Linked DNA regions of Homo sapiens. The protein of the gene in region 2 purifies or fractionates together with the protein of the main gene of each other region. This does not show direct contact. Each region holds a gene or a part of one and is shown on either strand. Other genes may lie near its edges.

Region 1 (3,656 bases), on a different chromosome or scaffold from region 2:
GTATTTTCCAGATAATCTTTTATACAGTTTTAAGTTTCCTGCCCTCTCTTCAATTTAAGTTATCTCCTTTTGAGTGAAATAAAAGACTAAGGAAATAAATAATGGTGGTTAACCTAAACCCAAACCATGAGGTTTCTTGCCACTGTCAATACTTAACAAGTCCTGTGTATACGAATTCTGAAAACACTGGCTCATGTGCCATATGAAACAACAATAGGAATTTTTGGGGAACAAAGACATTATTTAGTCAACAATGAAATCTCATTTTAGGATTATATTCCAGGTACCATACCAAACTGTTTTCAAATGAATCCCTATGTATGCTTGTATACGTTTTATTTCTTAATAACCGTGTTTTAACATTCACCCATCTTATTCTTCCAGTCATTTTACATGTGAAGAATCTGCCTCAATTAATTTTTTTTTTTTTTTGAGATGGAGTCTTGCTCTGTTGCCCAGGCTGGAGTGCAGAAGTCCCATCTCGGCTCACTGCAACCTCTGCCTCCCAGGGTTCAATCGATTCTCCTGTCTCAGCTTCCTGAGTAGCTGGGATTACAGGCACCCGCCACCGCGCCCAATTAATTTTTGTATTTTTAGTAGAGATGGGGTTTCACCATGTTGGCCAGGCTGTTCTTGAACTCCTGACCTCAAGTGATCTGCCTGCCTCAGCCTCCCAAAGTGCTGAGATTACAGGCATGAGACACCACATCTGGCCTGCCTCAATTAGTGTCCCCAGAGAATTGTCATATTAAGATTCAGTTTGAAACCCCCCACTAAGTGCCTCACCGCAGTTACCTCCTCATTCACTAGCCACATGAATGCCCGCCTTAGCCTCAGTCAGCCTCTCTGTCTTCCTTCTGCTCTGCTGAGGACTCACTCCATCACTGTGCATGACAGTTTCATTTCCCTCAGGGCGCCTTCCACAGCCACAGATGCATCTGACAAATGCCCCGAGCTCCTAAATCCCATGGCATTGTTTTGTCTGTACTACTCCATCGACACCGAAAACGTGCCAACCTCTATTATTATTTATCTTTTTATATGCATATATCCAGCTCCTCAACTAAGCTTTAAATCCTCAAGGACCCAGAGCACATCTTACGTGATGATGTGCACAACAGCCCCCTGCCAATACATCAGCACACCAAGCACTTAGTGCACAAGGGTGACCTGCCAGTCACGGAATCTGGAGCTGGGTGCTGCAGGTCCAGTGAGCTCCACGCTGCTACAGCCAGTGGTCATGCCCAGCCCTCCTCACATCTGACCTGGCCACAGCATGAGTCAGCTGATCTCTCCCCTCTCCTGTAGACAGACCTTCTGCGCGGCCTCCAGGACCACACCCTGTAATCACTTTCCACCTCCCTTAGTGGCCGTTACATCTGGCAGCGTTAACTAGCAGTTCCTCACATGCCTGGCCTCTTAAACTTGAAGGCCCCAGAGCGCAGTCCTTGGACTTGTTCTTTAAGTTCACTCTCTTAGTGGTATCAGAATCTCATTTTAGAGGTTCAGACTTACATATGAAGCTCAGAACTCCACACTCCATCTAACTGCCTACCCAACTTCACCACTTGAACCTCATTTGGTATCTCAAACTTAACTTGAAACAAACCAAGTTTCCGGTCCTCCCAATCTTAGTTAACAGTAGTAACTCACTCTCTTTCTAGTTGCTTAGGTCGAAAATGTTGGCTCCCTCTTCCAAATACTCTGTACCCAGAATCTGATCACATCTTACCACCTTCCCTGCTACCACCTGGTCAAGATGCCAACACTTCTCATCATGGTTACTGCAAAACAGCATCTAAACAGGCCCTCTTCTACCCTGGCCCTGCTGCAGTCTTCTCTCAGGAACAGCAGCACTGACTCACCATTAGCACTGGAGTCAGATCATCTCACTCCTCTGCCCCAACCCCCACAGTGACCTGCTGCACTTGCATCAAGTCTCTACTTAATGCCGCCCCTTGTCAGTCTGTTCCCACCTCTCGCCACTCTCCTTGCACACGCTGCGCTTCAGCCACTCTGCCCTCCTCAAACGTGGCAGGCATTTTTCTGCCTCAAGACCTTAGCACTTGATAGTGACTCTGCGTGAAACCTTTCTCCCCTCAAGAGCCACAGCCTCATGCTTGTGTCTGTCAAGAGCACGCTCACATTCCACATTCTAAGTGAGCCTTCCGACAATGCTCTCTAAAACTCCAACACCAGCCTACATGCCCACATACCTTATCCCCTTCCCTGTTCAGTTTTCTCCATGGCTTGTATTAACTAATAACATACCACATACTTTATCTACTTATTTCGTTCTTTACTGTTCTTCCCTTGCTCCCAAGAATGTAAACTGCATAAGGATAGGAATTTTCTTCTGCTTTGTACACTGACTTATTTCCCTGACCGAGAATAATATCTGACATACAGTGGGCAATCAGTAAATATTTGCTGAATTAATAAACAAAAGGGGGATGTAGATGATATAAAACATAGGGCATTAGGTCTCAAGCAGCCTGTGGAAAACCATAAATGTAGCATATGTGTTTAGGCTTCAGTTCTGCCACATTTTAGCAATATAACCTAACCTTAGATTCCTTATCTGTGACACGAATACAAATACCTACCTCACAAAGCTGCAGAGGAAGGAAATGAGATAACAACAGGATAAGCACTGAATGATATTCTAATATTATTATTTTATATAAATATAAAATAAAAATATGGTACTATTATAATCAAACTGTTGACAACAGCGACTACAGAAAAACATACTTTTCACCAAACTGATACTTACAAAAAAAGAAAAAACATACACTAAAAACACACATTTAATACATAACATACATATTATATCTGTTTAGGAGCTTCGATTATATGAAAAAAAATGTAAGTGTTTTAAGGGTTCGGGGACAAAGGAGTCCAAGGAAAGTGAAAAAGTTTAACCAGCTTCATGAAAGAGGTGGGTTTTGAGCTGAGCACTAAAAAAACGGGGTAAGATTTTAACAGGCAGACCAGGAAGAAAAGCTGCTCTCCATAGGAGAGTGACACGAGCAAGGGAACCCAGGCCGCAATGAGCGTGACACGCCTGTAGCTTAACCGAGAGCCCTGACAGGTCAAGGGAAACAGTTGTTTACGAAAGAGTAAGAAGTAAGATTGAGTGCATTTAGAGAACTTTGGAGAAGAGAGGAACATGCTAGGGTGAGAAGGGATAAGCACAGAAGGAATAAAGACAAGCGAGGATTCAGGTTGTGATCTGCCCCCAGTGTCCCCTCTGTCGGTGAGTGGAATGTCTAACCAGATGTACAACCAGAAACCCAGGGGGCCCACCACAATGCCTCCTCCTCCCTCTCACCCTCACTAAGTCTTGCAACTTCACTGCCAAGACCTTGAGTCTCACGCAGCTCCATCATCACGGCCACCCTACTCCTGACTCACCACCTAAATTACAACTGTAAGTTAATAAATGCTTCTGAAAAAACGTATTATGTACATTTATATTATTATTGTGTAACATTTTCTCTTAGACATTATGAATCATAAGGAACTCAACATAGCACAAGGCAAGTTTATGACAAACCCAACGACACACTTCCGTAACACCTCACCTAGCACAAACCTTCCTAAGCAGTACTCTTCTCTCTGAAAAGGAGGCTTATCTGACTGTGTGTTTTTTA
Region 2 (3,656 bases):
TTCAGTTTGGGTATACCAAATATAGATTCTATTTTACACAATTACTTTCATGTTCTTCCTTAATACTTTATCCATGCACCAACTCTTCCCTTACTAAATTAATGGTCAAAGTACCCCTTTGCCTAGAAGTTCAGTTTTCAACTATAATTTAAACACAGGGCTGCTTAAAATTAATTAACTATTATGTTTGATCTTTAAAATGTCTCTTGAGGCCCTTTTCAAGTCAGTACACACTTGAACAAATAGCTGATCTTTCTACAAAAGGTGAGCTAATTGGAATTCAATAGTATTTTGAAATAGACTAGTAATTTGAAATTCACCTTTAACAATACTGGAACTGAGGATACCAATGACTCCAGCATTCTCGAGAAGAGTGAGATGAAGAAGCGTGAGATGAAGGACTGAACGTACCACTGACAGAGTTATCCCTACAGAGTTACTGTCTGAAAGTGAACGTGGCCCACACTGAAGAACAACGAAAAGGCCCAGGGGTCTCTCCTCAGAAACACAAAGATTCCCTTAGGATGAGTAACATTCCGTATACTCTTAACATCTCCTCCACAGCTAATACATTTTCTTACCCCCATGCCTACAGCGACATTGGAAAATACCATTACAAATATGGATATGCTCAAACTGGAAAATTAGATCTTAAACTGTCTTGCGATCATAGACTCAGTTCTATTTGAAGGATGAACTCAGAGGAAGTTTAAGAACTAGAATCCAATTTCAGAGAACAGACTCAACTGAGAAAAAGAGAGTAAGAAGAAAGCTGACATTTTTATTCTCCTCCAGGCTTACCTTTAACTGTAAGGAATGTGTGTTATCAACACAGTCTCTCATGCCTTTATTCAATTAATGGTTATTAGGCACCTACTATGCACCAAGCCTTGTGCATTTAAATGAAAAGAAGTGAAATAAGGGGAGTCTGGAATGTGAGGAGTGGGGATGGGAGTGCATTGTAAGTTAAAATAGAGTGGTCAGGATGGGGTTCACAAAGAGGGTGACGTTTGAGCCTAGATGTGAAGGAGGTGAGTTCTGTCAAAAGTTAGACAATAAAAATAATCACAAGTACAAGCACCTGCCTAGGACTGCCTCCATTTGGAAAGGAGCCATATAAAGTCCTGACACTGGAATTTGAGCAACAGAGCCAGATTTTGCCGGCCAAAGCTGCTCATAATGAAAAAAAAAAAAAAAAAAAAAAAAAAAAAAAAAAGCTCTCACATTTCCCCTGATCAACTCCCTACTGCTTTCCACTCCCAAATACCCAAATAAATTTTTCTTGACTTGTAAATATAGGAATTTAAGAGACATGGAGTTCTTTACATAAAACAGAAATCTCCACAGTACAAAGACCAACATTAAAACAAGAACATGAGCACGGATGGGTTCTAGTTATTTCTTTAGCACATGTTCCCTGTTACAAGTGTCTCTGGGCACTCTACCTCATCTTGTTCCCTTTTTGTCAATATCTGGGCTCTTCTAACAGTCAGTAAGACAGTTAGTGACCCAAAAGCAAGACCTGCTGTGTGATTTGTGGGGCCCAAAACACAAGGGAATTGTGGTGGCCCTTGTTCAAAAAATATTCAAAATGTCAAGGTGGTGACAACAGAGCTTTGATCTAAGTGCTAGGCCCTTCTGAGCATGATGACCTGGGTGACTTCACAGGTCACAAACCCAAGAAGTCAGCCCTGCTTCTGTATTCCAGACTGGCCATACATATTTTTCCTTATTCGTTCTATCTGAACAAATAAGAGAGTAAAAACAAGTGTAAACTAGTCTGTGTCTTTAACAAAGGCATACCCTAACACGTGTTTGGATCATTGTATTATTTAGAGCTCTAAGGAATTCTTAAAGTACTAGTGGCCAAAGAATGCATAATGCCCCATTGTTAACCAACATACCTCATGATTAAGACATAGTTAGAGGAACAACTTCTAATTTGTCAGGAGCTTCCAAAGAAATTCACATGAAGATGGTACATGAAGATGTAGCAGTCTTCTAAATAAAAAAGTCCCATTCTGGAATATTCAACAATGAAACCTCAGCACAATTTTCCACAGTGCTGTACCAAGATTACATGTTTCTTCCAGAGAGGGAAAGGTTTCTTCAAACAAATGTGGTACGCCACACTTCTTTGCCAAACATAACAGCCCACCCATAAAGGACACCATGTGATGAGGTATAATAGTTTTGATAGCTCATTAAGGAAACTGCTTTTTGATAACTGGGGAAGGTTTTTCCACTGTGCAACAAAATGATAATGCTACTTTGCTAACTCCTCTACTGACAAAGATCCCCATGAACTTTCTGAACATTACTGGATGGTTGAAAGGAAAAGCTGCTTCTTTAGAAAACTGTGATTAAAACAAATTAGAGAATAAGCATCTAAGACTAACCAGAGTATAAACAAATGCAACACAGTTCAATTCTAAAACTGCAATAGGACTTCCACTTTTTAATCTGCAGTCTCTAACTACCTACCCTCTCTTAAAAAGAAATAAGAATATTTTAATTTATTTAAATGATAGTAATGTCATTTTGGGAAGAGACTCCATGAAAATTTACCACCTTAAGAAGTTCCCTTACCCAGAACCCTGTGGCATGCACATTTTCCTAAAACATCATCAAAGCAGTTTGAATGAGATCTATACTTAAAGTTTTTACATAAAATCCCAGGGACTGAGAGGATTCAGTCAAGCCACTTAAGAGGTAGAGCTAGGTTATCCTCAGGAGTTCTGAATGGAACTCAAAACTAGCTTCTGTCCTAAGCATCAAGTTTTCAATCTATTAAATGTATCAGTGATTGACACAGGATGATGTAACATAGCAAAGTGGGCTACAACAGCTATTCCTAATCAATTACGCTAACAACTCTGGAATAAAATGGACATCTCCTAAGAAAAAGAATTGTGAGATTTCTAACAATAATAACAGTGCCTATTCTTACATAGCATTTAGGCTATGAAAAATAAAACTTTCACATCCATTTTATCTCATTTGTCCAAGTAGTCCTATGAGTATTTTCAAAAGCATATGTTATCATTCCCATTTTATGGCAGAAAGCCTAGGCCAAGAAAAGCTAAGGAATTAGTCAAATGTCGGAACTTGAATCTATTCCTCTGCTCATCAGATTTTCTGACCACAGCATCATGACAAATTTTTATAAACATCAACATCACACCCCTGACCCCTGTTCAGGACTTCCGTAGATTTCTGGCTGGGCATGGTAGCTCATGTCTATAATCCCAGCACTTTGGGAGGTTGAGGCAGGCGGATCACTTAAGGCCAGGAGTTCAAAACCAGCCTGGCCAACATGGTGAAACCCTGTCTCTACTAAAAATACAAAAATTAGCTGGGCATGGTGGTCTGCGCCTGTAATCCCAGCTACTTGGGAAGCTGAGGAACGAGAATTGCTTGAACCTGGGAGGCAGAGGTTGCAGTGAGCTGTGATTGCGTCACTGCACTCCAGCCTGGGTAACAGAGTGAGACTCCGTCAGAAAAGAAAAGAAAAGACAGAAAAGAGAAAAGGAAAGGAAAGAAAAAAGAAAGAAAAGAAAGGAAAGGAAAGGAAAGGAAAGGAAAGGAAAGGAAAAGAAAAGAAAAGAAAAGAAAAGAAAAGAAAAGAAAAGAAAAGAAAGAAAACTTCCTCAGAT

What was found. The genes of interacting proteins can lie anywhere in the genome.
Region 1: the proteins of PALMD (region 2) and MIPEP purify together in Homo sapiens (affinity purification with mass spectrometry, with the first as the bait; one study listed by BioGRID). This does not show direct contact.

What each region holds. Positions count from the first base shown.
Region 1 is NC_000013.11:23,865,256-23,868,911, forward strand, and holds part of MIPEP (mitochondrial intermediate peptidase), read right to left. Parts: intron 1-3,656. UniProt on the Homo sapiens protein: Cleaves proteins, imported into the mitochondrion, to their mature size.
Region 2 is NC_000001.11:99,649,104-99,652,759, forward strand, and holds part of PALMD (palmdelphin), read left to right. Parts: intron 1-3,656.